Regions from separate parts of the Homo sapiens genome. Here region 1 is linked to region 2. The links come from fine-mapping of genetic effects on plasma protein levels. A gene starts in region 2. The other region holds a variant in brackets. All regions are shown on one strand. Distances are from middle to middle.

Region 1 (16,426 bases), 320 kb after region 2:
ATAATCATAGTTTACACATAATTTTGTTTGTGTCTTTAAATCAAAACTTTGCAGGTACATAGATAAAGTCATTGGTTCTCTTAGCTTTATTACAAAAGACAGGAGGCCTCTGGCTGTCACTGTCTCCCACTTGCCACCCTTCAGAAGCCCCTCTTGGAAGCTTTTCCACTCATGCTTTGGGTTGTTGCCTCCATATCTCTGATCAACACGCCTGTTGCCGCTTTTTTATTTTTCAGTTTTTGGAATTACTTATTTCTCATCGTGGAAGAGGAAGGGTAACTGTCTTTGACTGCTCCACCTCCAGAAAACACACGCAACACGCAGCTCCCCATCCTCTGGCACAGTCATATCATCATTTTGGTTAGATCAGTATTCAGTGATTACATTATTATAACTGGAAATGCTATCTACAGCTGTGAAGTGCATGATCGTTTTTCCTGCACGATCTCTTGATTTCTCTGGTGTTAATACTTAATTCAACTCCAAGTTCATCCTCAGTGTGTTAATCCCCCTGGTGCCTTCAGGCACTGTAGGCCGCCTCCCGCTTGCACCCAAGGCAGTCTCTCCTGGTGCCTTCTGGCCTACTCTAGCCAGAAGCCTGCTGCTGGTGGGCCCACACTCTCCAACTCACTTTTTTTCTTAACAGCTTTCTTGAGATATAATGCACATAACATACTGTTCAGCCTTTGAGAGTGCATAATTTTAGTGGTGGTTTTTTGTTTTTTGTTTTTTTTTTTTTGTTGTTGTTTGTTTGTTTTTGAGATGGAGTTTTCCTCTTGTTGCTCAGGCTGTAGTGCAATGGTGGGATCTCGGCTCACTGCAACCTCTGCCTCCCGGATTCAAGTGATTGTCATGCCTCAGCCTCCCGAGTAGTTGGGGTTACAGGCGCACACCACCATGCCCGGCTAATTTTTGTATTTTTAGTAGAGACAGGGTTTCACCATGTTGGCCAGCTGGTCTCGAACACTTGACCTCAGGTGATCTGCCCACCTCAACCTCCCAATGTGCTGGGATTACAGGCGTGAGCCACCAAGCCCGACCCTCAGTGGTTTTTATATTCACAAATTGTGCAACCATCGCCACTCTCTAATTCCAGAACATTTTTGTCATGCCCCAAAGAAGCCTGATACCCTTTAGCAGTAGGGTCTTCATCCCTCCTTCCCCCAGACCCTGGCAACTAAGACCTTCTCTGGACATTTCGTGTACGTGGGCTCAGGTAATCTGCAGCCTTTCGGATCTGGCTTCTTTCCCCTGGCTGAATGCTCTCACGGTCTATCTGTGTTGCAGCGTGAGTCTGCTCTTCATTCCTCTCATGGCTGAATAGTACAACCCTGCATGGCTAGACCGCATCTTGTTCACTTACCAGGTGATGGCCATTTGGGTTGTTTATGCTTTTTTGTTACTATGAAGTATTCTCTGGCTCCCTTTTGTGTTGCATCCCCTATATCTTGGGATCTATGTATTACGATTGCTAGAATTCTTCCCTTCTTTATGTGCGGGGTAAAGTTTCTGCACGGTCACATGTCTGAAAATGCCTTTATCCTGCCTCTCACGTGGCTTGCCTGGGTGTATAAGGCTCAAAATAATTTTTCTTCAGAATGTTGAAGAGGTTTCTTCATTGTTTTCTAGCTTTCCATGTTGCTGTTTAGAAACCCTATGCCATTTCTAGTTTTTATCCTTTGTAAAAATTCTTCTTCCACTTCAGAAGTTGGTAGCCTGTCTTCTCTGTCCCCTGTGTTCTCAAGTCTGTGAGTGAGGCTTGCTTTTGTCCATTTTGCTGGACATTCATTGAACTCTTCCATCCTGCCCCTCGTGTCTGTTGGCTCTGAATTATATCTTTGATTTCCTCTTCTGTGTGTTATCTTTTTCTCCTTTCTTGATCTCTTCTCCATTTGGACTTGTAGTTCTCTATTCTCCCCACCTCTTTTTTTTTTTTTTGAGACAGAGTCTTGCTCTGTGGCCCAGGACGGAGTGCAGCTATGCCATCTCAGTTCACTGCAACCTCTGCCTCCGAGGCTCAAGCGATCCTTCCACCTCAGCCTCCCGAGTACCTGGGACTACAGGCATGTGGCACCACACCATACTAATTTTTGTGGTTTTTGCAGAGGTGGGGCTTCACCATGTTGCCCAGGCTTGTATTCTATTTTGTTATTCGTTGCCTCTATTTTCTGGAAATTTTGCTACCCTTTCCTTTACAGTCCCTGTTCTATTTCTGCTGTTATAGTTTCACTCTGTAAAAGGGCTTTTGTGTGCTTTGTGTTTTTCTTTTTCTCCTTTTTAAATATCTCCGTATTCTTATTTCATGACTACACTGTCTCCTCCTCTCTCTCTGGAAATATTACCCACAGTTTGCTTTTGAAGTGTTTTCCCTAAATAGTCTCTCTTTCCTGCAAGTTGCTTTTCTCTGTTTATTCCTGTCTCAGTCTTTCATCTTAGGTGCTTTTCTCAAATGGGATGTGATTTCTAGATGTCTACTCAGGTGTTGGAATGGGGTTAGAAATTGATCCAAAGCTCCGTGAACTTTGACTTTGGGCCTCTTGGGGTGATCTGGCTGTGCCATTCCACTGGAGAACTACCCCTGGTCTCCAAAGTTTTTTTAGATTCCTGGGAGAATACCTTTCCATTCCCTGGCTTAGAGGCACATGCTGTCTGCCTGCTCTTCTGGGAATGAGTGGGGCTGGGGAGAGGGAAGAAGAATGGGAGAAACTCAGAAGTTCAGTGTGTGTTACTTTTATGTCTCCATTAAAAAAATGGAATACCCTAACCTCAACTCAGTCCAGACCTACTGCGTTTTCTCCAGAGAATAAACATGTATATTTTGCTAATCGCTTCTTAAACAGACTTTTAAAACCTTTCTTTTGCTTTCTAGTCCTGTGTTCACCGTCATTTCCAGAGGTGTCTTGTGCTAACAGTTCATTAGCGTTTTATGAATCATTCCATTCTCATCAGATATTATTTTGGTGGCATCCATGTCTGTTTAGGAATGAAATTTTCTCAGGTCTGTCAAGTTATTTATCAGTCATCTACCTGATTCTTAGCTTCTGTAATTTTGTTTTTTTTGTTTCCTCTCCAATTCTTTTTTTTTTTTTGTGAGCGATGTCTTTATAAAAACCTTTTTTTGCTTTTATTGTTATTTTTGACACATAATAAATTGTGCATATGTATGAGGTAGTGTGTGATATTATGATAGATGTATACAAAATTTAATGATCAAATCTGGGTACTTACCATATTCATCATCACCTCATAGGAAACATTTTAATTGTTTTTTTTTTTTTTTTTTTTTGGGGGGCGTGGTCAGAGTCTTGCTCTGTTGCCCAGGCTGGAGTGCAGTGGCACCATCTCGGCTCGCTGCAATCTCCGTCTCCCTGGTTTAAGTGACTCTTCTGCTTCAGCCCTCCGAGTAGCTGGGATTGCAGGAGCATGCCACCATGTCCAGCTGATTTTTGTATTTTTAGTAGAGACAGGGTTTCTCCATGTTGGCCAGGCTGGTTTCGGACTCCTGACCTCAAGTGATCCACCCGCCTTGGCCTCCCAAAAGTGCTGGCATTACAGGTGTGAGCCACCGCACCTGGCCTTAATTGACATTTTAATGGGATTTTGAGAGGATGTGAGTGTAAATTACTGTGTTCAGGCTCTCATCTTTACAGAGTTCTTCACAGTTTTTCTTTCCATAACTGTTTGGGGTTATCTGTTGTGATTGGGTCACTCCCTGCATTCGTGGCCCAGGACTCAGGGCTTCTTTCTGCGTGTTTCCTGCTGTCACTCAGGGTCTTGAGCCTTCGGCGGGCTCTAACAGTGTGGTCTGAGGAGGCTTAGCCACCTGGCTTAGTTGCATCAGTTTTGACTCCTGGTTTTGCTCAGCCTTCCTGACTTTCACCTTCTTCCTGAAGGCTACCCGCATCACTGGGGGGCTAGTCTCAGATCCTTGTTTAGCCTCACTGCCCCTCCATACAGCTGATAGGGCATCCAAGGGATTTCTTGTCCCAGAACACACAGGAAACTGATCCTGCATCATTGATGCTTGTTTTGAGGCTTGAGGCTAATCCACATTCTTAAACATGCTGTGGATGTTTTTCTTTGCCCTTGGTGTGGGAGGTCTTCCCTGTTCTTGTTTTCTGCTTTTCTTGGAACTATCTGGTTCATTCTCAGCTTTTCTTTATTTGTTTTTCCCTGCAGAGTGGGCATATATGGGCATATACATAATCATGGAAACACTACTCAGAGCCGTTTGTGTGCATGCTTGCTCTGACCTGGGAGCCAGTCTCTTTAACATGTCTTTTGCATTGACGTTCTGTGTTGGTTTCCGAGTTTTTCTAAAGGTTTTCTTGCTGTCATCCTAAGTATGGTTTATAAATACCAATCCTTGGTTTTACACATACTCTGACCCCCATTAGTGCTCCACAGCTGGCTGTCAGCAGGCCCTACCTCACTGGATCACTTTTTTGTTGTAGAAAAAGGAACTTGGCAAATATAAAAGATGTAAGTGGACTGAATGCAGTGGTTCACACCTGTAGTCTCAGCACTTTGGGAAGCTGAGGAGGGAGGATCACTTGAGGCCAGGAGTTTGAGACTAGCCTGGTCAACATGGTGAGACCTTGTCTCTACAAAAACTAAAAAAACAAAAAAAGAACTAGCCTGCTGCAGCAGGGTTATGCCTACAGTCCCAGTGACTCAGGAGGCTGAGGCAGGAGGATCGTTTGAGCCCAGGAGTTCGAGGCTGTAGTGAGCTAAATGATTGATTGTGCCACTATACTCCAGCCTGGGTGACAGAGGAGACCCCATCTCAAAAAAACAAACAAAACCTCCACCCCCCAAAACAACCAGCTCTTATGTCTTGCCAAACCTGCCAAAACATTGCCTGTTTTCTCCTGAAATGGAAAGTAGTGACAAGATTATTTCTTGACTCCTGTGCTTCTGTCTCATGACAGTTCTTGCATTTTAAAAATACAGCTTATCGCTTTTTATTTTTTTAAGTGACAAAGTCTAGTTATGTCACCTAGGCTGGATGACAGTGGCACAATCATAGCTCATGGCAGCCTCGACCTCCTGGGCTCAAGCGATCCTCTCAACTCAGCCTCCTGAGCAGCTGACACTACAGGCGCACACCACCATTCCTGGCCTTGTCACTCGTTTTATTGTACTTAGGTGAAAATGTCCCATTGTTGAAGTAGTTAGTAAGTGTGTGTGTGTGTTTTTCTTGAGAGCTTTTTCAGTCTGAAGTCATCTGAGAAAGAAGAATTTTTTCTTTTTTTACTGGGAGAATAATTTTCGATACTGTTGAAATATTTATGACATGTCTCTCTTTCTCTAAAGTGCCAAATCTTTGGAGTGTTGATGGAGAAGTTACAGTAGCTGAACAGAAGCCGGGAGAAATTGCTGAAGAACTCGCAAGCTCCTACGAAAGAAAGCTCATCGAGGTAAGGCCGGTGGAGTCTGTGTGTCTTTGTTTCTGATGTTGGCTGCGTTGGAGACTTTCCAGGGTAGGTCCAGCCTATTCTAAAGACACGTGAGCAAAACGACCAAGCAACTCCTCAGCCCCACAAAACAAAGCAAGACCAAATCAGTGTGCTTTATAAAAAGAAGTATGAGCTGATCCTTTGAAAAATGTCACTTAAATATTGGAACTTTTTGGCACTTATGATAAGGACATAAGAGAAAACATATATGTGTAACATTAAAAATAAAACAATTGTAAGATTTGGAGATGAAAACAGAGAATATCACATGCACCTTTGTGCTGTTAAATGTGAAAATATGGATGAGGTGAACTATTTTTCAGAAAAACATTCATTATCAGAATTAATTGAAGATGAGGCAAACTGGTCGAAGGGACCCCCTCACCCTCAAAAGAAAAGAAAAAAAAAACCAAAACATTTTGGAATAAAGTTGTACAAATTACTGAAGAACTGCTTCCTTAGAAGACAGCAAGCCTAGAGGGTTTCATGGTGATTTCTAGGAAACTCTTCAAGGTAATACACAAAGAGCCCTTTGCTATTTATATTTCCTGAGAGGGTTTTTATACGTCTCTATCTTGGTTCAGGTATGCATTACTGTGATATAAAAAAATCCTGACAAAGATAGCATAAAAAAGAAAACTATCAAATAGAATCATTTGTGTATAAGATGTACAAAAATTCTAGAAAGTCATTACTCAAATTCAGTCGCATATTAAAAGAACAGTGCACATAAAACATAGGGTTTATTTAGGATTGCAAGGATGGCTGCATGTTGGGAAATTCATCCATGTAAGTCATCTCATTAGTAGCCTCAAAGAGGACAACCAGATAATTATCTTGGTAGGAAATGAAAAATCATTTTATAACCTTATTGATACCTGATTAAAAAAAGGGTAATTCTTGGATATGATAAAGAGGTTTTTCAAAAACCATTGATTTATTACCATATTCAATGGTAAAGTTGAGAAGCTATGTTTTTGATGAGGTGTGTGTACATGTTGTAATGGTCCCTTGGTGGTAGTATTGTAAGTCATGTCTGTATGTACATACATACACATGCTAAGTATACAAGCAAACTTTCGGTTCTTTCTAAATCTTCTACAGTGAGTTTTATTTTGATAATCAAGAAGACACTCGCTCATTGCTGTGTAGACATACCTGAGCTTGGGTGGGTTTCAGAGGCCCAGGGCCTTGGAGGGTGTTCCCCTAAGTTCATTGCTGGTGCAGGCTGCCATTCTTACCATCTGTTTTGTCTGGTCTCTAAATTGCCTCTAAAGAA[GGAAGGTGGCTTTAGA/G]AACAGCTTGCATTCTAACTCAGGTGAGCTCAAGGGAAGGCAAGCTGAGGCCTTAACACACAGGTTGGTGGGGATGAGTCAAAAGCCAGGCTGGGGAGGCCTGGGGACAGGGCACTCCTGTGTGCTCTCTGCCCAGTGCTCTGCCCTTCCTTGGGAGCTCCCTCAGTGGGGCTGTGAGACTCAGACTTGGCTGGTGGCAGTGCCAGGGTTCTGGGCCATGAGTCTGTGCCCGGAAGTCCCAAGTGGAGAGGGAAGCAGGGCCCCAATCTCAGGATTGGGACGACTTGTGTCAGGATTCGAACCCCTGAAAGGTAGGACTGTGTCTTTGCCACCTCTGTACGTTCCACAGCCACTTATTGGCAAATGGTAGGTGCTGCGTAACCCTTGAATTTTTAAGTTCTCCTGGGATGGGGATGTCTGGATTTACTGAATGAATGAATGAAGGCCTGATGAGCTAGAGAAGGTGAAAGGGTTCTCAGAATGAAAGTGCAGGATGAAAGGTTCTGTTCCTCTGGGGGAACAAGGGTGCTGTGGTGAGGACTCCATCAGACCAGTGCAGCTCAGTGAGGGTGCCTACTTCGCAGGGTCCACAAAGGCATTGAGTGCTGGGTCCAGGCAGCGCTCTCCGTGGAGATTCTCCACCTGTGGGGCTGCTGGGCAGCGTGTAGGGGTGGGGTGGGGGTGTTTGACCCTCTGATTGATTGGGTGTTTGACCCTCTGAGCCAAGTGCCACTAGTTCATTCGTGGGCCGGGTGGTTGGATGATTTATTTCAGTGTTTATGAGATGCCTGCTTTCTGCATCAGAAACAGCAAGAACAGAGGCTGAGTACAAGGAAAGCATTGGCAGGAACTGAAAGGAGACTCACGGGTCGGGAACAGAGTAGATGAGGGGAGAAAGGTGATGCTGTGGCTGTGTCCTGGCCGTGTCACCACCCGCTTTGCTTTGACCATGTGAAAATCTCATCCCCTGCTGTGCTGACCTGAGCTGAGATGTGTGGAGAGGATCAGGTCATGTGGGGAGTTACTGCAGGGTCCACCTGCCTGGCCGTTCTGGCCAGCTGTGAGAGGGTGAGTGTGGAACCACCAAACGGGAGGGCTCAAGGTTGAGGCATGAAGGTTCGTCTTACTGGCCTCAAGCTTCCTTTCTTTTCCTTCTTGTTTGTTTTTTTTATCCCGGGAGCAGTAGAGATGCTGGCTGTGGTCAACGAGCTGAGAGAAGTGTGAGGTTGAAGCAGACATGTCCTCAAACGGCATTTACTGCACCGGATTGATTTTTCCTTCTTTTTTGGTTGCAAAGACAGGTTCTGCCGGTGATCTTTCATCTGTGAATAGCATTAGCATTTCACTACACCAATACTTTTGCTGTTAATCGAGACCCTCAGAACGTTCTTTGTGATGCTTCTGTCATTCTGTTAATGGGTTGATTTTTACCAAAATAGTTGTAAAGACTTGTTAGAGTAATGAACGAATGTGAGGGGAAAAGTTGATATAGTTTCTTTCCGTGTCAGAAGGGCAAAGGAAGAAGAAGAAACATTGTATTTATTTAGTTATTTATGGAGACAGGGTCTCAGTCTGTCGCCTAGGCTGGAGTGCAGTGGTACAGCCTTGGCTCACTGCAGCCTCAACCTCCCCGGCTCAACGGATCTTCCTACCTCAGCCTCCCAAGTAGCTGAGACTACAGGCATGTGCCACTATTCCCAGCTAATTTTTTTAAATTTACTTTTTCTAGAGATGGGATCTTGCTATGCTGCCCAAGTTGGTCTCAAACTTGTGACCTCCAACAATACTCTCACCTCGGCCTCTCAAAGTGCTGGGATCACAAGTGTATGCCATTGTGCCCAGTCCATCTCATTTTAGATAATAAGGATATTTGGAACACCTTAAACATGGTGATTCATCCCAGTGCGAAGGGAGTTTCTGAGAATTTTTTTATCTAGGTGTCTTTGAGAGCATGAAAGCCAACTCATCTATCTGCACATACACACTACACATTTGTGCTTGGTGACCTGGAATCCAGTGTCCTGGACAGCACAGAACCTAAAGTCGGTGCCATAAAGCCCTCTTTAAATGGCTGGTGGGCATCTTGTGCCAAGGACTGGAGGTATAAAAATTGTTCCTGACACCCTGTGGTTGTTAACTCAGGAAAACAAGGAGGACAGGAGAATTCTGGCAGGTATACATTAATCTGGCAAGGGTAAAAGCACTAGTAGTATCACAGCCCCTGTAATACTAGCAGCAGCTGTCAGGTGAGTACTGTTAGATCCAGGCACTGTGCTGGGGTTTTTACGTAGATGAACATATGTGATCCTGAGAAGAGTTCTTTGAGGAGGACACTCTTGCTGCCTCCAGTTCACAGACAAAGCTTTGGGAAGTTTAGTAACTTTCCCAAGAGTCCTTAGCTGCTAAGAAGCAGAGCTGGGGCTGGGCGTGGTGGCTCAAACCTGTAATCCCAGCACTTTGAGAGAACGAGGCGGGTGGATCACTTCAGACTAGGAGTTCGAGAGTAGCCTGGCCAACACGGGGAAACTATGTCTGCCAGATAGAATCTGTTTCCATTCTCAAAAATTAGCCGGTCATGGTGGCATATGTCTATAGTCCCCAGCTACTTGGGAGGCTGAGGCAGAGAATCACTTGAACCCGAGAAGAGGAAGTTGCAGTGAGCTGGGATCATGGCTCTGCACTCCAACCTGGGCGACAGAGTGAGACTCCATCTCAAAAAAAAAAAAAAAAAAAAAAAAATGCAGAGCTGGATTTGAATCCTCACAGTTGAGCACCAGAGTGCAAACCCACAACTCTCTGCCGTGCTTTGGAAGGCTGAGCTCATTGAAGAAGAAGGTTAACTTGACGGAAGAGACGATCACTACCGATGTTCAAGAGAATGAATGGCAGGACACAAGGGGGAAAACTAGTAGTAGATAACAGCAACTGCAGCAATATCAGCCATTTGAGATGGCGCTGGTGGTGGGGACATCACAAACCCTTTGTTACTGGAGAAGAAAGGGGAAAAGCACATCTTGTCTGTGCCAAGGATTACCTGCTTCCAAAGCAACTTGTAGCAGAACAGCAGAGTGAGAGTTCCTCGAGGGCAGTGCGGACATTGTCTTTTAAATTGTATCTTCATTGCCCAACCCATCTCCAGCATATAGTAGGAGAAACATAACATTGAATAGAAGGCCAGCCTGTTGAGTGGCTTCAGTCATCTTGTGTAATGCGTAAAGAATGATAAATGTGAGTCCTAGAACCTCAGATTGGGAGTGAATTGTCTAAGGCATCACAATTAAGTATTTTTTTGTTTTGTTTTTTGAGATGGAGTTTTGCTCTTTTTGCCCGGGCTGGAGTGCAATTGCCTGATCTCAGCTCACTGCAACCTCCCCCTCCCAGGTTCAAGCGATTCTTCTGCCTCAGCCTCCTGAGTAGCTGGAATTACAGGTGCCCACCACAATGCCTGGCTAATTTTTTGTATTTTTAGTAGAGACAGGGTTTCATCGTGTTGGCCAGGCTGGTCTCGAACACCTAACCTTAGGTGATCCGCCTGCCTTGGCCTCTCAAAGTGCTGGGATTACAGGCGTGAGCCACTGCACTCGGCCCACAGTTAAGTCTTAACTAGAGCTCAGAGCAACCTGGTAGAAAGGATTAGATAGCTAATAAGAGCACATGGGTTCTGGAGAGGAGGCACACTTTACTCTGGCCCTTAATGTTAGCAGGAGGCATAGCTTGGAGAGCCTGGGGACACCATTGAGTAATAGATGGTGCCAACTCAATTTGTGCACATCCATTGAGCGCCTTCTCAGTGTCCAGCCCTTAGCTTCCTTTCTCCTCCCTTTGTGGCTTTTCTTACCCTGGGAGCAGCAGTGTTGATGGTTGTAGGAGATGAGCCAAGGAAGTTGTGAGGTTGAAACAGAGACATCCCTGAAATGGCATTGACTACCCTAGATGGAGTTGTTTTTTTTTTTTTTCTTTTTCTTTTTTGAGACAGAGCCTCACTCTGTCACCAGGCTGGAGTGTAGTGGCGTGATCTTGGCTCACTGCAAGCTCCACCTCCTGGGTTCAAGCGCTTCTTCTGTCTCAGGCTCCTGAGTAGCTGGGACTACAGGCACGCATCACCATGCCCAGCTAATTTTTGTATTTTTAGTAGAGATGGGGATTTCACCATGTTGGTCAGGATGGTCTTGATCTCTTGACTTCGTGATCCACCCACCTCAGCCTCCCAAAGTGCTGGGATTACAGGCATGAGCCACTTGCAGAGCGACTTCTGTTGCAAAGTCATTGGTGTTTCATCTGTGAGTTGCATTAGCTCTTCCTCATGCCAAGAGTGGTCCTAAGTTACAAAAATGAATGGGACGCAGTGCCTGTGTTTAGGGAGCTTGCATTCTTGTGGGTGAGGCAGACGTGCCTGTTCTAATTGTCAGGACAGATAATTGAAGTGCAGAGGTAGGGTTATACCCACAGGCCTGGAGCTGTGTCTTTGACGGCAGTTCTGCAGAGGTTGGCACCTAACCACAGCTTCTTTAGATAATTCCTCCCCACTTCTTAGGGACTGTTAGTGGTGATGCTCAGAATTTCTTCTGTAAACTTCCCCATGCTTCTTGAAATTCTAAGACACCAGAACAGAAACAACCAAGGTTTTGAAGATAAGATATTGGACACATCCAAGATTGATCTCTTCTGAGACTCTTGCTTCTTTACCTCTTTTAAGTACATTTCCTTTGGTTTGGACTCATCTTCAGAGATGTTCTATTCTTTTTCAGCAGTTGTCTTCACAACAATGTGAAGTGTTGGCGACATTCGGACTTTGGGCCTGCATCACTTTGTCGCTGCCTTCTGCAGCCTGGTGACTTGGAAAGCACATGTATCGCGTGTCAGACTGAGTTCAGATTTGCCACTTACTGCCGTATGTTCCTGGGCACGCCCCCTAACCTCTCTAAGCCTCAAGTTCTCTGTTAGTGAAATGCAGCCAGTCATACCTGTGAGTGGGTTTGTTTTGGGAATGACACATAAGAACCCAGCTGAGTGCCTGCAGTAGACAGGAGGTGTCTCTGTGCTTCCTCTTCTCCCCTCCATCCTGACTTTCTTTGGAGGGCTTCCCTCTCCACCATAGCGTGCTGTCTGGGTGGGACAGTATGTCCAAATGCTTTGCCCTGGTTTTGGTTCAGGGCTGGGTACATGACCTGAGCTAGGCCCATGGGGGCTTTAACTCTGGAGTTGTATAAGAATGCAGCAATGCTTGGGAGGCCGTTTATTCAATAGCAATTAACAGTAAGCATTTATTCAATAGACTAATAGCAATGAGTCTGATAAGACTCTAATTGTTTTCTGTGTTGAACTTGCCAGAACTGCTTTGGTTTCGGTTCCTTTTTTTTTTTTCTTTTTTTTGAGACAGAGTCTCATTCTGTCACCCAGGCTGGAGGGCAATGGCACAATCTCAGCTCACTGCAACCTCTGCCTCCCAGGTTCAAGCAATTCTCCTGCCTCAGCCTCCCGAGTAGCTGAGATTACAGATGCGTGCCACCACACCCAGCTAATTTTTTATATTTTTAACAGAGATGGGGTTTCGCCGTGTTGGCCAGGCTGGTCTCGAACTCCTGACCTCAGGTGATCCACCCACCTTGGCCTCCCAAAGTGATGGGACGGATTATAGGCATGAGCCACTGTGCCTGGCCTCAGTTACTTTTCTGAGCCTGATTTCCCCACTTTTCTGCCTGTTTATAGTGAATTCTATTTTAGCTTAGGTTAGAATCTGTTTATTTTGCTTACCAGCGGTGCTCTCACTTAGGTAAAGCTTTGTATCCGTATGTAATCAGTAGATGCCGTTTCCCTTCAGTTCTCCTTCCACTCACTGTTTAGCAGGGCTTAGCTCCCTCATGTTGTCTTCGGGCTCTCCCAGCTCTTGCTTGCCGGCACCGTTTTCTAGCTGTTTGCCCCACTTGTGTATCTTCTGCTTCAATATTGCCAGTCCATCCTCTGCAAACAGAACTTTACTCCCTTCCATATGGCAGGGCTCAGCTAGCTGATGATTGATTTTTAAAATTATAAGACACTTATCGTTTACTGTCTGAGTGTGGTTAGTCCCTGAATTTTTCTTGTGGGTAAAATAAATGGTGTATTAGCAACATTTGTTCTCATTATAATGGCAGAGTCGCTATTAATGGAAAAGTAAGCTTGAACATCAAGCTGGTAAAAAATACACTCATAATCACACGCTGTAGATAACTGTGAATGTGATCATCATTTTAATAAAGTGTAAAAATTCCGGAAGCAGCCAGGACCTTGGGAGCAGTTACACCACCAGTGCCTGCCTCATAAATTGGCACCAATGGGTTCCAACACTTCTCATGCGTGTCCAGGAGTCATTTTTGTATAAGAGCAGCATGGGCTTTTCAATAAAATACTGGATTTTTTATAAGGACTCAGGATAAAAAACTCTGAGCTGAGATCTACATTAAACTGATACTCAAAATGAAAGGTATGATGTTAGGTTTATTTATTTATTTATTTTTTATTTTTCTGATGGAGTTTCACTCTGTTGCCCAGGCTGGAGTGCAGTGGTACGATCTCAGCTCACTACAACCTCCGCCTCCTGGGTTCAAGTGATTCTCCTGCTTCCCCCTCCACAGTAGCATACGCTACCATGCTCAGCTAATTTTTGTATTTTTAGTAGAGACAGGGTTTCACCGTATTGGCCAGGCTAGTCTCAAACTCCTGACCTCAAGTGATCCTCCCACCTCGGCCTCCCAAAGTGCTGGGATTACAGGTGTGAGCCACTATGCCTGTCCTGTTTGTTTTTTTTTTTAATCACATGAAGCTGAGTGGATTGAGACCAGGCTCTTACCTCATATAGTTTGATTACCAAGCAAAATGGAGTGTTTAAGTGTCTCCTATATATCAGTGAAAAAGGGTAAGAAGTTATAGTTTCTAGCAGGATAGGTGTAATTCCCACTGAAGTGTGAATGACTAACAGGGCTAAACCTCCAAGGATTTTTTTTTTTTTTTTTTTGAGATGGAGCTTTGCTGTATTGCCCAGGCTGGAGTGCAGTGGTGTGATCTCGGTTCACTGCAAGCTCTGCCTCCCGGGTTCATGCCATTCTTCTGCCTCAGCCTCCCAAGTAGCTGGGACTACAGGCCCCACCACCATGTGAGGTTAATTTTTTTGTATTTTTAGTAGAGATGGGGTTTCACCGTGTAAGCCAGGATGGTCTCGATCTCCTCACCTCATGATCCACCCGCCTTGGCCTCCCAAAGTGCTGGGATTACAGGTGTGAGCCACTGTACCCGGCCCCAAGGTGTCCTTAAAATTTTTTTATTATGTAAAAGTTGAAACATATACAGAAATAAAAGTGTAATGAGCCTCTATGTACCCATCACCTGGCTGTAGCTGTTAGTACCTCTTGGCCAGTCTTGCTTCATCTGTATCCCGTCCCACCCATCAAACCTCAGCCTCTCATGGTATTTTGAAGAAAATCCCAGGTTCCATATTATTACATTCCTGAGTATTTCAGAATCTATCTTTAAAAGATAAGAGGTCTTTTAAAAACCCCACATTACTGCAATACCATAGTCATACTTTAAAAAGCCTGTTAAAAGAGGCTCGTGCTAGTCCCATTGATTCTTGGGTTGGAGTATCAGGGAGAGGAGCTTCTTTAAGAACGTCTTTTAGGGGGCCCCTGGCTCACTCTTTCTCCTTCCCAGCTTCCCGAACAAGGAACTGGAGCATCTCATTTATGCAAGATGGCTAAGCTCGGAGCTTTTCTGTCTTTTGGATGTGCCCTTTGCTTGGCTCTCTGCCTTGACTTCAGTTAACAACACACATAGTCATGTCAGCAGCACACTACACAGGCCCTGGGAAAGTGAGGGATTTGGAGATGAGGAGGTGTGACCACAGCCTGCAGGCTCCACCAGCGTATGGGTTTCCAGCCTCCAGCATGGTCTCCTTTACAAACAGACTCCTTCCCTAAGGAAGGTCTCTGAAGGAAGAGGAGGCAGGCTGTATCTCACAGGTGTCTCTCTGTTTTTTTTAAATTTTTTTTTTAACTGGTAAAAAGTAGGCAAAAGAGCATAAAGAACTTCCATATACTCATCACCCTACTTCAATAGTTATCAACTCTTGTCCAGTCTTGTTTCATCCACTTACCCTCCTGTTTCCCCAGCATCAAGTAGTGTTTGGAAGGAAATCCAAAGCACAACGTTGATTTCACCCATAAGTAGTTAGGAATATATTGGTAGTAAACTACAAGGACTGTCTTTTTAAAACAGAAAAAACTCTGTAGTATCATTATCACACCCTAAAGTTAGCAGTAATTCCTTAGTATTGTCAAATATCTGGTGAGTGTTCAAATTTGTAGTTTAAACAGGTGTTTGAATCAGGATCCCAGTAAGGTCCCCACCTCGTGATTGGTGATGGATCTCTTCAGTGTCTTTTAATCCATATGTTCTGTCACCTGTGTCTCCCTGCCTCTCCCTTTCTTCCTTACGTGTCATTTATTAGTTGAAGAACCTGGGTTGTTGATCCTAGAGAATTTCTCCTACCAGTGTTTTTTGAGGGTGTATTACATGTGTGGTACTTGGTGACCTGTTAGGTTTTTCATGGCATTTTATGAAAAGCAGCTATAGATATTGATGTCACAGCCTGGGCAATGTAGTGAGACCCTGTAATTACAAAAAAAAATTTTTTTAACTAGCTGGGTACATCAGCATGCCTGTGGTCCCAGCCACTCAGGAAGTTGAGGTGGGAAGATTGCTTGAGTCCAGAAGGTCAAGGCTGCAGTGAGCTATTGAAGTAGGAGGTGGGACTTGACTCCAGAGGCGGGACTCAGACACTGGACCAAACTGACTACTAGCTAAAACAGGACTGGGTGGAAGCAGCTTTCCATCAGACATGCCCGTGGGTGCCATGTCAGTTTACCATTATCATGGCAACATCCAGGAGTTACGGCCCCTTTCCATGGCAATGACCCAATGACTCAAAAGTTAATACTTCCTCTCTAGAAATTTCTGCATAAACGACCCCTTAATCTACACATAAGTAAAAGTACCTACAAATGTGACTGCAAAACTGCCCTGAGCTGCCACCCTCTGTTTGCGGGGTCACCCTGCTCTGCAGCAGCAGTCCCGGAGCTGTAACTCCACTGGAGCTGTGACACCGCCACTTCAATAAAGCTGTTTTCTTCTACCTCCAGCTTGCCCTTGAATTCTTTCCTGGACAAAGCCAAGAACCCTTGCAGGCTAAGCCCTTCTTTGGGGGCTTATCTGTCCTGCATCACTATGATGGCACCACTGCTTTCCAGCCTAGGTGACAGAGCGAGACATCTGGGGAAAAAAAAAAAAAAAAAAAAGATAATGAAGGTAATAGCAGTTAGTGCAAATTGAGGGGCTATTCTATTTTTAGGCACTGTGTTAATTGCATTACATGGACTGTTTGATTCATTGTTCTCTGCATACCTACAGATGATGAAGCCGAGGCTTGGAAGGGTTAAGTCACCTGCCCGAGGTCATGGGGCTAGCATAGGTAGAAGCAAGATTTGACCCCCTGACTGACCCCAGAGTTGGTACTCTTCCCATCGCCCTCTGTGGCCTTCTCTGTATCTGACTAGAAACAGGAATCAGGCCTGCCTTGCCTACTAGCTCTAACTTTTAGTTCTAAGTGGAGCCAGGAAAATGAATGCAGTGACAAACATGC
Region 2 (16,426 bases):
AAATGGTCTGCCCGCCTCAGCCTCCCAAAGTGCTGGGATTACAGACCTGAGCCACCGTGCCTGGCCCTTAAATCAGTAGACTTTGAATAAAGGACACTGCCCTTCATAATGTGCGTGGGCTTCATCCAATCAGTTGAAGGCCTAAAAAGCAAAGACCAAGATTTCCTGAAAAAGAAGGAATTCAGCCTCAAGACTGAAACACAGACACCCTCTCTGAGTGTCTGGCCTGCCTGGCTTGCCCTGTGGATTTCAAACTCAGTACTGCAACATCCACTCTTACGTGGATTTTCAGTCTGCTGGCCTGCCCTGCGGAGTTTGGACTTGCCAGCTCCTACAATTGCATGAAGCAATTCCTTAAAGTAAATCTCTGTCTCTAGCTCTGTATCTCCTTTTGGTTCTATTTCTCTGGAGAATTCTACTGATACTTAGATATTCCCCAATTACAGAATCCCCCACACATCCTGCCAACATCAGCTAAGCCGTGTTTTTGCAAACTCTCCCCAAATAACCTGACACAAATCCAAATCCTATGATGAGAACTTTCTAACATTGTCTTTATTGAGTCACTCAGGACTGACTACTTAACTTGTGGGGCCCAGTACACAGTGAAAATGCTGGCTGGGTGCGGTGGCTCACTCCTGTAATTCCAACACTTTGGGAGACTGTGGCGGGCAGATCACCTGAGGTCAGGAGTTCAAGACTAGCCTGGCCAACATAGCAAAACCTCACCTCTACTAAAAATACAAAATTAAGCTGGGCGTGGTGGGTGGGTGCCTGTAATCCCAGCTACTCAGGAAGGCTGAGGCAGGAGACGTGCTTGAACCCAGGAGGCGGAGGTTGCAGTGAGCCCAGATCACGCCACTACAGTCCAGCCTGGATGACAGAGCGAGACTCCGTTAAAAAAAAAAAAAAAAATCCTAGGCCAGGCATGGTGGCTCATGCCTATAATCCTAGCACTTTGGGAGGCCAAGTGGGGTGGATGGCTTGAGTCTAGGAGTTTGAGACCAGCCTGGGCAACACAGCAAGACCCCCATCTTTGCAAAAAATAAAGTTAAATAAAAAACCTAGCCAGGCAAGATGGCATGTGCCTGCAGTCCCGGCTACTCAGGGGACTGAAGTGGGATGATCACTTGGGCCGGGGAGGTTGAGGCTGCAGTGAGCTTTGATCTCACCACTGCACTCCTGCCTGGGTAACAGAGTGAGACCCTGTCTCAAAAACAAAGTAAAATAAGAAAGCCTGTAGGTTGAAAATATTAAGGTTAAAGAGGTGGTAACAATCAGGGTTGGTTTGGGGAGCTGAGCTACCATGGGTGAGTGTTACGGGATAAGGGAAGGAATGAGACTTTGCACAATTATTGCAGGATCTCGGGAGGTGAAGATCTGGGAGTGGGACCAGAGGAGTCACCAACCAGTGGATCTAGAAGTCAGGAATGTCTGTTTGCCAAAGTGGGGCTCTGCAGGGGGAGCTCGTAGAGGGGTTTAGTTTGCCCCTGTATGGCTCTTGCCTCTGTGAATGGGCAGCCAAGCATTTGGTGCTGGGGCTCGGGCCGTGGCAGAAGCAGCTTTAATGGCTTTGGGAGTTTCCAGCACCACTTTGCTTCCTTAGAGCTGTGAGTGACAAGTGAAGCTTGAGGCTGGTGTGAGTACTGGATTCCTCACTGTTCCTTCTATGTCACGCAAGGGCAAACACAGCACTCTTTTGGTGATGTGATTACATCAGCACCTGTCTCATAAAACTTAAAAAAAAATCTTTGTTTCAAAATCATGCTCCTAGCCAGGCACAGTGGCTCACACCTGTAATCCCAGCACTTTGGGAGGCTGAAGTGGGAGAATAGCTTGAGGCCAGGAATTCAAGACTTGTCTGGGCAGCAGAGCAAGACCCTGCCCTTACAAAAAATTAAAAAGGAAAAAAAATTGCTATGCATGGTGGCGTACTATCGTAGTCCTAGCTACCTGAGAGGCTGAGGCGGGAGGATTGTTTGAGCCTAGGAATTCCAGGCTGCAGTGAGCTGTGATCACCCAACTACCTCTAACCGGGTGACAGAGGGAGACCCCGTCTCAAAAAAAAAAATCATATTATTAAAAAAAAATATTCAAACACTGCTAAAGATTTTTCAATGAAAAGTGAGTCTTTTTCTTTCTTTAGATTTTGTCTATTGCCAGAGACAGTCCATCAGTCTTCTTTCTAGCTTTGCAAAAAAAGTCTCCGTTTATGTCTGTCTATTCAGACACTACCTATTTTATTTTTTTAAATTTTATTTTATTTGAGACAGTCTTGCTCTGTTGCCCAGGCTGAAGTGCAGTAGCACACAACCATGGTTCACTGTAGCCTCAACCTCCTAGGTTCAGGTGATCCTCCTGCCTCAGCCTCCTGAGCAGCTGGGACCACAAGCACGCACTACCACACCTGGCTAATTTTTAAATTATTTGTAGAGATAGGGTTTCCCTGTGTTGCCCAGGCTGTCTCGAACTACTGGGCTCAAGTGATCCTTCTACCTCAGCCTACCAAAATGCTGGCATTACAGGTGTGAGCCACCGTGCCCAGTCTGTACTTTGTGTTTTTCACTTAGTGATTTATCTTTCATATGAGACCACATCTGTCTCATTCTTTCTGATGGCCATAGTCTTCCATTGTGAGGCTCCCAGTGACGAACAGTTCTGTTGCTCTAGGCTCTTATGAATAGATGTGATGTCACAGTAAACTACATTGTACCTGAGATTTTAAGTACCTGAGCAAGTATATCTGTCAGACACAATAGTGTTTTCTTTCCAAAGAGTTAGCAAAGCTTTCTTCCCCTGGCTTCTGGCTTCCCAGGTATGGTTCCCTTTTTTTTTTTTTTTTTTTGAGACAGAGTCTCCCTCTGTCGCCCACGCTGGAGTGTGCAGTGGCATGATCTCAGCTCACTGCAACCTCTGCCTCCCAGGTTCAAGCAATTGCCCTGCCTCAGGCTCCCACGTAGCTAGGATTACAGGTGTGCGCCACCATGCCCGGCTAATTTTTTGTATTTTTGGTGGAGACGGGGTTTCACCATGTTGGCCAGGCTGGTCTCAAACTCCTGACCTCAGGTTATCCGCCCTCCTCAGCCTCCCAAAGTGCTGGGATTACAGGCATGAGCCATGGCGCCTGGCCTCAGGCATGGCTCCTATTGGCTGCCTCCTCTTCCTCACCACTCCTTAAATATCTACCATCTGGCTTGCATCAGGGACACACTCAAAGGCCATCAATGACCTGCTTCTTTAGTGCATCGCCCCTGATCTTCCTGTAGAATTTGACTCCACTCCCTAACTCAGGCTAAAATCTCTCCTTGCTTGACTGTTATGGGAGATTTTTTTTTCTTTCTTTTCTTTTTTTTTTTTGAGACACGGTCTCACTCCGTAGCCCAGACTGCAGTGCAGTGGCGCAATCTTGGCTCACTGCAACCTCTGCCTCCCAGGTTCAAACGATCCTCCTGCCTCAGCCTCCCAAGTAGCTGGGATTATGCACGCCACCACGCTTGGCTAATTTTTGTATTTTTAGTAGAGACTGGGTTTCACCATGTTGGCCAGATTGGCCTCAAACTCCTGACTTCAGGTGATCCACCTGCTTCAGCCTCCCAAAGTGCTGGGATTACAGGTGTGAGCCACTGCACCCAGCCTGGGAGATAATTTTTGTTCTCTCCCTATTTCTCTAATCATGTTTGTCCTGTCTCCTTTGCCTGTCTTCCAAAGGTCAGCAATCTGGCAGAGGCTGAGGGAGTGGAGCCTCCTGGGCCAGCTGCTTCAGCTTCTCCCTGTCCTGCCTAGGCAGCCTCTCCCACTTACCTCACCACCTGGACCCCAGAGGAATTTGACGTTTTGATCAATATCTAAGTTCAAAATCTTTCCTAGGCTCAAGTCCTGCATTTAAAAAAAAAAGTATTTTTTTAAATTTCTGCATTTTATTTTCATGATTTTAGCATTTATTATGGACTACTTTAAAAATACAAAAAGAGGCCAGGCGCAGTGGCTCACGCCTATAATCCTAGCACTTTGGGAGGCCGAGGCGGGCGAATCACTTGAGGTCAGGAGTTCGAGACCAGCCTGGCCAACATACTGAAACCCCGTCTCTACTAAAAATACAAAAATTAGCCAGGCCTGGAGGCACGCACCTGTAATCCCAGCTACTAGGGAGGCTGAGGCAAGAGAATGGCTTGAACCTGGGAGACGGAGGTTGCAGTGAGCTGAAATTTTGCCACCACACTCCAGCCTGGGTGACAGAGTGAGACCCTGTTTAAAAAAAAAAAAAAAAAAGGTATGAGCAGTTGTATAATATGCTCTATCTGCCTCCTGGGTGGATACAAATAAAATAGGTAGGGTCTGAATAGACAGACATAAACAGAGGCTCTATTTGGAAAGACAGAAGACTGACAGTGGCTGGGCACTGTGGCTTACACATGTAATCTCAGTACTTTGGGAGGCTGAGGCAGGAAGATCACTTGAGCCCAGGAGTTCAAGACCAGCCTGGGCAACATGATGAAATCTCATCTCTACAAAAAATACAAAAATTAGCTGGGCATGGTGGCATGTGCGTAGTCCTAGCTACTCAGGAGGCTGAGGTGGGAGGATCGCTTAAGCCCAGAAGGTGGAGGCTGCAGTGAGCCCTGATGGTGCCACTGCACTCCAGCCTGGGCAATAGAGCAACACCCTGTCTTAAAAAAAAAAAAAAAAAAAAAGGCTGGGTGCGGTGGCTTGCACCTGTAATCCCAGCACTTTGGGAGGCCGAGGCGGGTCGATCACGAGGTGAGGGGATTGAGACCATTCTGCCCAACATGGTGAAACCCTGTCTCTACTAAAAATACAAATATTAGCTGGGCATGGTGGCGCATGCCTGTAATCCCGGATCATGAGGTCAGGAGATCGAGACCATCCTGGCTAAGATGGTGAAACCCCATCTCTACTAAAAATACAAAAACAAAATTAGCCAGACATGGTGGTGGGTGCCTGTAGTCCCAGCTACTCTGGAGGCTGAGGCAGGAGAATGGCATGAACCTGGGAGTCGGAGCTTGCAGTGAGCTGAGATAGCGCCCCTGCACTCCAGCCTGGGTGACAGAGCAAGATTCTGTCTCAAAAAAAAAAAAAAAAAACCAAAAAAAAAGAGGAAGACTGACAGTAATTACTGCCTCTGGCAAGAGAGAGGAAATCCAGGGTAGGAAAAAGACTTACTTTTCATTGAAAAATCTTTGGCACTGTTTGAATACTTATTTTTTAATAATATGAATTTTAAAAACAAGAATTATCAGTGGCTGGGCGCGGTGGCTCACACCTGTAATCTCAGCACTTTGGGAGGCCAAGGCAGGTGGATCACGAGGTCAGGAGACTGAGACCATTCTGCCCAATATGGTGAAATCCTGTCTGTACTAAAAATACAAATATTTGCTGGGCATGATGGCGCATGCCTGTAATCCCAGCTATTCCGGAAGCTGAGGCAGGAGAATCACTTGAACCCGGGAGGCAGAGGTTGCAGATCGCACTACTGTACCCCAGCCTGGCAACAGAGGGAGACTCCATCTCAAAACAAACAAACAAACAAACAAACAAATAAATAAAAAATCATCCAGGCTAGGTGGCTCATGCCTGTAATCCCAGCAGTTTGAGAGGCCAAGGCCGGTGGGTCACCTGAGGTCAGGAGTTCGAAACCAGCCTGACCAACACGGTGAAACCCCGTCTCTACCAAAAATACAAAAACTAGCCAGGCGTGGTGGCATGCACCTGTCATCCCAGCTACTCAGGAGGCTGAGGCCAGAGAATCGCTTGAACCTGGGAGGTGGAGGTTGCAGTGAGCCGAGATCGCGCCATTGCACTCCAGCCTGGGCAATAACAGTGAAACTCCAGCTCAAAAAAAAAAAAAAAAAGAATAAGTTTTTAAAGGTTGGGGTGCTTGGAGGATGAAATAAAGTAGAAGGGATGGCAGGTTTCCTTGGCACACTCCTTGGGCCTTAAGAAAGTGTAAAGAATAAGAAAAATACAACAAAAGGAAAACAACAAATATCAATGTATCCACCACTCAGCTTAATAAAGAAAATATAATAAACACAGGTGAAGCCTTTTTTGTGCTCCCCTTCTTCCCCACCACTTACCTCAGAGATAATCACTATACTGAATTAGGAGTTTGCCATTTCCTCAAATTTTAATTGAGTCCTGCATTTTTGACAAACATCTGGACGTCTCTATATGGGTATTTCACTCAGTATGGTTAAAAGCAAATTCAAGCTGGGCTTAGTGGCTCACACCTGTAATCCCAGCGCTTTGGGAGGCCGAGGTGGGTGGATCACTTGACCCCAAGTGTTTGAGAGCAACCTGGGCAACACGGCAAAAACCCATCTCTACAAAAAATACAAAACTTACCAGGCGTGCTGGCGCATGTCTGTAGTCCCAGCTACTTGGAAGGCTGAGGTGGGCAGATCACCTGAACCCAGGAGGTGGAGGCTGCAGTGAGCTGTGATTGTGTCACTGCACTCAGCCTGGGAGACAGAGTGAGACTCTGTCAAAAAAAAAAAAAAAGGCAAATTCAAGTGATCCATTTATGTAAACAGAAAAATGCACTATATAAATGTATCTATCTAGAATTCAGGGATCGGTGAAACAAAAGACATCGCATCGGCAGGTCTGTTTGCAACTTCTGGGATACACCAGGTGTTAGCGGTGATGACTTCTGGATGCTTGGACTGTGGATTTTTAAAATGGTTTTATCTGCTCATCTGTATTTCTAAATTTTCAACAATGGAACATAGATTATTGTATTATTATTATAATACCCCAAACCTATCTTCCTCTCAGCCCTCTTTCCACGAGCTCTTACCCTAAATGTCTCTTTTTCTGTCAGTGGCATTGTGCGTCTTCCTTAGTGCATCACCTCTGATCTTCCTGTAGAATTTTTTTTTTTTTTGAGATAGAGTCTTGCTTTGTCACCCAGGCTGGAGCGCAGTGGCCTGATCTTGGCTTACTGCAAACTCCGCCTCCTGGGTTCAAGCACGTCTCCCTGCCTCAGCCTCCTGAGTAGCTGGGATCATAGGTGCCTGCCACCATGCCTGACTAATTTTTGTATTTTTAGTAGAGACGGGGTTTCACCATGTTGGCCAGGCTGTTCTGGAACTCCTGACCTCAAGTGATCCACCTGCCTCGGCCTCCCAAAGTGCTGGGATTACAGGAGAGCGCCACGGCGCCCAGCTTACACCAGACTACTTTTTAAAATGTTTTTGTAAAGTCAGGGTTTCGCCATGTTGCCCAGGCTGATTTTGAACTCCTGGGCTCAAGCAATCCTTTTGCCTTTTGACTCCCAAAGTCCTGGGATTACAGGTGTGAACCCCTGCAGCTGGCCTCAATGTTAAGATCTTAAGGGGCACAGCACAGACCTTGTCTTGTCTATCTCCCTGGCACCTCTCACAGAGTACAGCTTATTAACAGATGTTCCAGAAACTGTTACTGAACATTCGGCTTGATGCTGTGGGCTTGTCTGCATCTTGCAACTGTCACCTGGCTGAGAAATTTCTTCTATAAATAAGCAGTTTCTGTTTCAGATGTGATATGCCCTGATATTTACACCCTGTCTCTTACCCCATCCAAGACTCAAACTTAGAAACTTGAATTAGATGTGGTATTCAAATCCTTAGCTGCCGCGAAGACACAGACAGCCCCCGTAAGAACCCACGAAGCAGGCGAAGTTCATTGTTCTCAACATTCTAGCTGCTCTTGCTGCATTTGCTCTGGAATTCTTGTAGAGATATTACTTGTCCTTCCAGGCTGTTCTTTCTGTAGCTCCCTTGTTTTCTTTTTGTGATCATGTTGCAGATGGCTGGGCAGTGCTCCCAAAATGAATATTTTGACAGTTTGTTGCATGCTTGCATACCTTGTCAACTTCGATGTTCTTCTAATACTCCTCCTCTAACATGTCAGCGTTATTGTAATGCAAGTAAGTAATATTGCTTGAACGATTATTCATTGGTGTGAACTATTCTGTCTATATGGACTGCTTATTCAGAGAATCAACATAATGGGCATGATGGTGAGTTTTCTTGAATCAAAAAGAGAAAGGAAGCAAGGCAGTGATTTTAATGTTTATGGAAACAAAGTAATTATTTGGAACTGAACTTGATATGATTCAGCACTATTAGCAACATAGATTTTTTTTAAAAATCAGCTCTTCTAATTAAGTGATATTTAGAATTTAAAAGTCAATGTTCATTAATTAAGGTGATTGAATGGAAATAATCCATACTTGATTATTTTGCTATCAAAACAATCCATAATTCATTATTTTAGCAAAATAATCAAGTATGACAGCCGGGTGCGGTGGATGGCTCACACCTGTAATCCCAGCACTTTGGGAGGCCGAGGTGGGTGAATCACCTGAGGTCGGCAGTTTGAGGCCAGCCTGGCCAACCTGGTGAAACCCTGTCTCTACTAAAAATACAAAAAATTAGCTGGGCATGGTGGCACAGGTCTGTAATCCCAGCTACTCGGGAGGCTGAGGCAGGAGAATTGTTTGAACTTGGGAGGTGGAGGTTGCAGTGAGCCGAGATCGCGCCACTGCACTCTAGCCTGGGCAACAGAGCAAGACTTTGTCTCAAAATAAATAAATAAATAATAACAATAAAGTATGTGAATATTATGTTATCAGCTCATTATCTGTCTGATGTTCTTTTCATAAAGGTGTGACCAATTCAGTGAAAGGAACGAATGCGATTCTCTGGACCTGTTTGGGACTGAGCTTAATAATTTCTTTGGCAGTTTTCGTGCTAATGTTTTTGCTAAGGAAGATAAACTCTGAACCATTAAAGGACGAGTTTAAAAACACAGGTTGGTTTGATGGTGAATCTTTGAAATCTATTTCCAGGGGATGGCTATTGTGAGTTTCAGTTCCTTTTCTTTTTTTAGCGTTGACTATTTCACTTCGTTACAGCCCTTTCGAATGTGTTAGAACATTGTTACATTAAATGAACTTGGTAGAGGTGAGCCATCTTCATTCTGATTTTGACACCTTGGCAGATTTTCTACAATGTCAGTCTTCTCCAGGATTCTTCCACTGTTAATTACTCTATTGAAAGTACTAAGGCTTTCTTGGGAAACATCAGTCTCTTTGACTAAAGTTAGCACATCGATTAAATGCCACATTATCAGAAACTCCTAGCCAGGTCTGCTACTGTCAGGAAAAGCATATTTGTCAAGATCTATGGTCATGTTTTTATACAAATATAGGTGTTCTTTGCTTGAGTGAACATTTTACTACTGAAAAATGTTAGAAATGAATAACCAGTTGCTCCTGAATTATTTGAGGAATCATCTAAAAAATAATTATTTTTAAGCAATAGAGAACCAGTCCCAGAAAAATGAATGTTCTACTTAAGTGCCTCTTAAGATAAAAATACTTCTGCAGCACCTTTGCTCATGATTGGATTCCCAAGCATGTACAGCCACTGCCCTATTTCTGTATGCATTTATTTATTTATTTATTTATTTATTTATTTATTTATTTAGAGATGGAGTCTCGCTCTGTGGCCCAGGCTGGAGTGCAGTGGCGTGATCTCAACTCACTGCAGCCTCTGCCTCTTGGGTTCAAACAATTCTCCCATCTCAGCCTCCTGAGTAACTGGGACTATAGGTATGTGCCATCACCTCCGACTAATTTTTGTACTTTTTGGTAGAGACAGGGTTTCATCATGTTGGCCAGGATGGTCTCAAGCTCCTGACCACAAGTGATCTGCCCGCCTCAGCTTCCCAAAGTGCTGGGATTACAGGCGTGAGCCACAGGGCCCAGCACATACTCATTCTTTTTTACTGAAAAGATCTGTTTCAAGCTGGGTGTGGTGGCATGGAGCTGTAGTCCCGACTGCTCTGTAGGCTAACGTGGGAGGATTGCTTGAGCCCAGGAGTTTGAATGCAGCCTGGGCAACACAGTAAGACCCCACCTCTAAAAAATGAAAAAATCTCTCTCACATTGCTTTGAGTCCCGATGTGTACTGCTAAGACTCTCATGACCACATTCTCTGTGAAGTTTGGGTTAATGTTTCCGTTTCTACATAATTAGGATCAGGTCTCCTGGGCATGGCTAACATTGACCTGGAAAAGAGCAGGACTGGTGATGAAATTATTCTTCCGAGAGGCCTCGAGTACACGGTGGAAGAATGCACCTGTGAAGACTGCATCAAGAGCAAACCGAAGGTCGACTCTGACCATTGCTTTCCACTCCCAGCTATGGAGGAAGGCGCAACCATTCTTGTCACCACGAAAACGAATGACTATTGCAAGAGCCTGCCAGCTGCTTTGAGTGCTACGGAGATAGAGAAATCAATTTCTGCTAGGTAATTAACCATTTCGACTCGAGCAGTGCCACTTTAAAAATCTTTTGTCAGAATAGATGATGTGTCAGATCTCTTTAGGATGACTGTATTTTTCAGTTGCCGATACAGCTTTTTGTCCTCTAACTGTGGAAACTCTTTATGTTAGATATATTTCTCTAGGTTACTGTTGGGAGCTTAATGGTAGAAACTTCCTTGGTTTCATGATTAAACTCTTTTTTTTCCTGACATCTAAGTTTTTATTAACGTGAGTTTTTAAAAACAAGCATGTATACCAGTGTGGGGGGTGAGGGTGGGAGAGAAAGGTGGGAGGGGGAAAGAATTCTAACCTATTGATAATAAAGCTCCAGTTTTGGCCAGGCGCGGTGGCTCATGCCTGTAATCCCAGCACTTTGAAAGGCCGAGGCGGGCAGATTACCTGAGGTCAGGAATTTGAGACCAGCCTGGCCAACATGGTGAAACCCTGTCTTTACTAAAAATACAAAAATTAGCTGGGCATGGTGGTAGGCACCTGTAATCCCAGCTACTCAGGAGGCTGAGGCAGGAGAATCGCTTGAACCTGGGAGGTGGAGGTTGCAATGAGCTGAGATAGCATCCCTGCACTCCAGCCTGGGCAAGAGGGTGAGACTCCGTCTCAAAACAAAACAACACAAACAAACAAAAAGACCTCCAGCTTCATCTTCTGCTGGATTTTATAGTGCCCCAAAGATATGTGGTCCTTAAAAATTGTATACCACTTATTCAGGAGTCTTGTTCCTGAAAGGGTTGTTCTTGTTACAGCCCTAGTCTGGGCTGTAATCAGCTTCTTAAGGTCCACAATGGTGTTATCTGTGTAGCATTTAACACAGACCTTCTCCACACTATCCACTCTCCACTGAGGTTGTTGCAAACAACCTCAATCATCCTAGCTGATGCTCATCACCTTGAACATGCTGACATGACAATCTTCTCACTAGAGACCTCTAAACGCTTGACTTACTGAAAAAAACAGCATTCTGTAGATCTCAGTAACCAATTTCTTTTTCTTTTCTTTTTTTTTTTTTTGAAACGGAGTCCTGCTCTGTTGCCCAGGCTGGAGTGCAGTGGCATGATCACAGCTCACTACAACCTCCACCTCTCAGGTTCAAGCGATTCTCTTGCCTCAGCCTCCCGAGTAGCTGGGATTACAGGCACGTGGCACCATGCCCTGCTGATTTTTGTATTTTTAGTAGAGATGGGGTTTCACTGTGTTGGTCAGGCTGGTCTTGAACTCCTGACCTCAGGTGATTCACCTGCCTTGGCCTCCCAAAGTGTTGGGATTACCGGTGTGAGCTATCGCGCCCGGCCCCAGTCATACGCTTCTATGGTTAGGGCGCTTCTCTCCGATATACATACATACAGATTTCAGGAAGGATCGGATGTTTCTCTTGATTTTTGAATTTTATTTATTTATTTTTTGAGACAGTCTCGCTCTGTCGTTGACACGGGAGTGCAGTGGTGCGATCTCAGCTCACTGCAACCTCTGCCTCCCGGGTTCAAGCAATTCTCTGCCTCAGCCACCCGAGTAGCTGGGATTACAGGTGCCCGCCACTGCGCCTGGCTAATTTTTGTATTTTTAGTAGAGACAGGGTTTCACCATCTTCGCCAGACTGGTCTTGAACTCCTGACCTCGTGATCCACCTGTCTTGGCCTCCCAATGTGCTGGGATTACAGGCGTGAGCCACTGTGCCTGGCCTTTTCTCTTTATTGTTAAAGGAAAGCTAACTTATGTACTTCTGCAAACAGGAGAAGCCTAGAATCAACCAGACGAATTCAGTGTGCAGTGCACAGGTGGTTCTTGGCCTTGTGAGCTTCCAGCTTAATGAAAGCATCAGGCATTACTATAATTACACAAGTAAATGTGTAATCGCAAACTGTGATAACGGTGCACGACATACTGTTTTCAGCCCAAAATGTGAGTGGTGCTATAATAATCATATCTAACCCTTATATAGTCTTACTAACGTGCCAGGGACTGTTCTAAGTGCTTCACCTGTACTAGCTCATTTTATTTTTTTGAGACGGGGTCTTGCTCTGTTGCCCAGGCTGGACTGCACTGGCATCATCTTGGCTCACTGCAACCTCTACCTCAAGAGGTAGGTTCAAGAGTCTCCTACCTCAGCCTCCCAAGTAGCTGGGATTACAGGTGCCCGCCACCACACCCGGCCTATACTAACTCATTTTAAGCACACAAAAACTCCTGGGTATGGCCGGGTGTGGTGGCTCATGCCTGTAATCCCAGCACTTTGGGAGGCCGAGACAGGCAGATCACCTGAGGTCAGGAGTTAGAGACCAGCCTGACCAACATGGTGAAAACCTGTCTTGTCCCACATTTCCAGTCTTTATTTTTATTCATTTATTTATTTATTTTTGAGATGAAGTCTCACTCTGTCGCCCAGGCTGGAATGCAGTTGTGCTATCTGAGCTCACTACAACCTCTGCTTCCTGGGTTCAAACAATTCCCCTGTCTCAGCCTCCTGAGTAGCTGGGACTACAGTCGCATGCCACCATGCTCAGCTAGTTTTGGTATTTTTACTACAGATGGGGTTTCACCATATTGGTCAGGCTGGTCTCGGACTCCTGACCTCAGGTGATCCACCCACTTTGGCCTGCCAAAGTGCTAGAATTATAGGTGTGGGCCACTGCACCTGGCCTTCCAGTGTTTAAAATCAGCATTTTTTTTTTCTTTCTTTTGAGACACAGTTTCACTCTTGTTGCCCAGGTTAGAGTGCAGTGGTACGATCTTGGCTCACTGCAACCTCCAACTTCTGGTTTCAAGCGATTCTCCTGCCTCAGCCTCCCGTGTAACTGGGATTACAGGCACCTGCCACCACGCCTGGCTAATTTTTGTATTTTTAATATAGACGGGGTTTCACCTTGTTGGACACGGTGGTCTTGAACTCCTGACCTCGTGATCTACCTGCCTTGGCCTCCCAAAGTGCTGGCATTACAGGCATGAGCCACCGCGCCTGGCCTAAAATCAGCATTTTCTTACTCGTTTCTTTTTTTTTTTTGAGATAGGGTCTTACTCCAATGCCCAGGCTGAGTGCAGTGGCATAATCTTGGCTCACTGCAGCCTCGACCTCTGGGGCTCAGGTGACCCTCCCACCTCAGGCTCCTGTGTAGCTGGGACTACAGGCATGTACCACCATTCTCGGCTAATTTTTTTTATTCTTTTAGTAGAGATGGAGTTTCGCCATGTTGCCAAGGCTGGTCTTGAACTCCTGGGCTCAAGCGATCCTCCGACCTTGGCCTCCCAAAGTGCTGGGATTACAGGCATAAGCCACCACGCCTGGCCTAAAATCAGCATTTTCATCTGCTACATTGTTGTGTGCTAGGTCAGTCATGTTAAAGAAAAGGGTCAAACTCTAAAACATGTGAAGAGATTTATTCTGAACCAAATATGAGTGACCAATGGCCATGACACAGCCCTCAGGAGATTCTGAGAACACATACCCTAGGTGGTTGGGCTACAACTTTGTTTTATACATTTTAGGGAGACAAAAAGCATCAGTCAATACATATAAAATGTACACTGGTTCGGTCCAGAAAGGCAGGCCAACTAGAAGCAGGTATGGGGGAGTGGGGTGGTGGGGGGGTGGGTGGTTCCAAGTCATAGGTAGATTCAGAGATTTTCTTTCTTTTTTATTTTTTTAGACAGAGTCTTGCTCTGTTACCCAGGCTGGAGTGCAGTGGCGCAACCTTGGCTCACTGCAACCTCTGCTTCCCAGGTTCAAGCAATCCTCCAGCCTCAGCCTCTCAAGTAGCTGGGATTACAACTGTGCGGCACCAAGCTCAGCTAATTTTTGTATTTTTAGTAGAGATGGGGTTTTGCCATGTTGGCCAGGCTGGTCTTGAACTCCTCACCTCAAGTGATCTGCTCTCCTCAGCCTCGCAAAGTGCTGGGATTACAGGTGCGAGCTACCGTGCTCCTGGCCTAGATTCAAAGATTTTCTGATTGGCAATTGGTTGAAAGAGTTAAGTTATGGTCTAAAGATTTAGAATCAGCCAGGCGTAGTGGCTCTTGCCTGTAATCCCAGCACTTTGGGAGGCTGAGGTGGGTGGATCACGAGGTCAGGAGTTTGAGACCAGCATCGCCAACATAGTGAAACCCCATCTCTACCAAAAATACAAAAAATTAGCCGGGTGTGGTGGCAGGCACCTGTAATCCCAGCTACTCGGGAGGCTGAGGCAGGAGGATCACTTGAACCTGGGAGACAGAGGTTGCAGTGAGCTGAGATCACGCTATTGCACTCCACAGCCCAGGCGACAATGCGAGACTCTGTCTCAAAAAAACAAAAACAAACCAACAAAAAAATTTCTGTGTTAAGATAAGGGATTGTGGAGACCGTAGTTCTGTCATGCCAATGAAGCCTCCAGGTGGCAGGCTTCAGAAAATAGATTGTAAATGTTTCCTACTAAGGAGTCTGTTCTGGGCTGGATGCCGCGGCTCACGCCCGTAATTCCAGCACTATGGGAGGCCGAGGTGGGCAGATCGTAAGGTCAGGAGTTTGAAACCAGCCTGAACAACATGGGGAAACCCCGTCTCTACAGAAAATACAATAATTAGCCGGGGCTTGGTAGCATGTGCCTGTAATCCCAGCTACTTTGGAGTGTGAGGCACAAGAATCACCTGAACCTGGGAGGCGGAGGTTGCAGTGAGCTGAGATCACACCACTGCACTCCAGCATGAGTAACACAGTGAGACCGCATCTTCAAAAAAAAAGAAAAAAAAGCTAGGTGTGGTGGCTCACGCCTGTAATCCCAGCACTTTGGGAGGCTGAGGCAGGCAGATCATGAAGTCAAGAGATTGAGTCCATCCTGGCCAACATGGTGAAACCCCGTCTCTACTAGAATTAGCTGGACGTGGTGGTGGGCGCCTGTAATCCCAGCTACTTGGGAGGCTGAGGCAGGAGAATTGCTTGAACTCAGGAGATGGAGGTTGCAGTGAGCCGAGATCACGCCAGTGCATTCCAGGCTGGCAACAGAGCGAGATTCGGACTCAAAAAAAAAAAAAAATAGCTGGGCGTGGAGGCTGATGCCTGTAATCCCAGCACTTTGGGAGGCCGAGGCGGGCGGATCACCTGAGGTCAGGAGTTTGAGATCAGCCTGGTCAACACGGAGAAATCCTAACTCTACTAAAAGTATAAAATTAGCCGGGCGCGGTGGCACATGCCTGTAATCCCAGCTACTCAGGAGGCTGAGGCAGGAGACTCGCTTGAACCTGAGAGGCAGAGGCAGAAGTTGCGGTGAGCCGAGATTGTGCCATTGCACTCCAGCCTGGGCAACAAGAGTGAAACTGTCAAAAAAAAAAAAAAAAAAAAAAGACTCTATTCTATCAGTAATTCTAAAAGGGAGGAGTCTATCGTGAGGCATGTCTGGCTCCCATTTCCCATCATGGCCTGAACTAGTTTTTCAGGTTGCCTTTGGAGTGCCCTTGGCCAAGAGGCGGGCTTCATTCAGATGACTGGGGGACTGAGAATTTTATTTTTGGTTTATAGCCATGATTTCCATAGCTGGGATTTGGTTCTTTCCACTGTGGGGGCCAAGGGGAAAACTTCCTCTTAGTCCTTTGAAAGTTGCTGAAAAATCAGCTCAGAAAAGGCAGATAAACTGGAGAAAAGGTAGACAAGTTTTACTGACTTGTACCCTGGGGGAGAACCACAGAGTGAATACCTATCCCTCAACAGAGTTCAGCAGCTTATAAATTATTTATTTTATTTTTTGAGACAGAGTTTTGTTCTTGTTGCCCAGGTTGGAGTGCAGTGGTGCCATCTCGGCTCACTGCAACTTCTACCTCCCGGGTTCAAGCGATTCTCCTGCCTCAGCCTCCCAAGTTAGCTAGGAGTTCCTAGCTGGTCTGGAACTCCTGACCTCAGGTGATCTGCTTGCCTCCCAAAGTGCTGGGATTACAGGTGTGAGCCACCGCACCCAGCCAAATTATCACAAGGCTACAAAAAGAATGAGGGCTTGGAACCCCAGCAAAACAGGTTATGGGACTGGGGAGAAGAGGAATTCTGTTGAGGAGCAATAAAGGATCACTGGAGATGGAATGGATCCTGGAATGGAGATTATGCTGTAAACAGTTCTCTTTG

Alleles and levels. Alleles are on the strand shown, and positions count from the first base shown. The strength of an association depends on the size of the effect and on how common the allele is.
For the plasma level of the protein whose gene starts at base 7,683 in region 2, GGAAGGTGGCTTTAGA is the high allele of the variant in region 1 and G is the other (weak association).

The links. PIP is the posterior inclusion probability: the model's chance that the variant is causal. The UK Biobank Pharma Proteomics Project read protein levels with antibody pairs (Olink). The fine-mapping took linkage between variants from a reference panel, not from the people measured, so its PIPs are less certain.
Region 1: its variant is fine-mapped to the plasma level of the TNFRSF17 protein (UK Biobank, PIP above 0.99).

Annotation. Positions count from the first base shown.
Region 1 is chr16:12,272,617-12,289,042 of GRCh38, forward strand. It overlaps SNX29 (sorting nexin 29), which reads left to right. Exons shown (of 21, transcript NM_032167.5): 15 at 5,317-5,420. Among named protein-coding and RNA genes, the nearest start is that of SNX29-AS2, 92 kb to the right of the region's middle. RefSeq lists an enhancer at 11,680-11,809. The variant GGAAGGTGGCTTTAGA/G (reference allele first, on the strand shown) is at 6,739.
Region 2 is chr16:11,957,528-11,973,953 of GRCh38, forward strand. TNFRSF17 (TNF receptor superfamily member 17) reads left to right here and starts at 7,683. Exons shown (of 3, transcript NM_001192.3): 1 at 7,683-7,927; 2 at 8,668-8,814; 3 at 10,043-10,541. The coding sequence starts at 7,798. The coding sequence ends at 10,320. It also overlaps a transcript of NPIPB2 not described here and the pseudogene UBL5P4. RefSeq lists a silencer at 5,550-5,719 and enhancers at 7,231-7,350, 7,471-7,910, 15,229-15,729.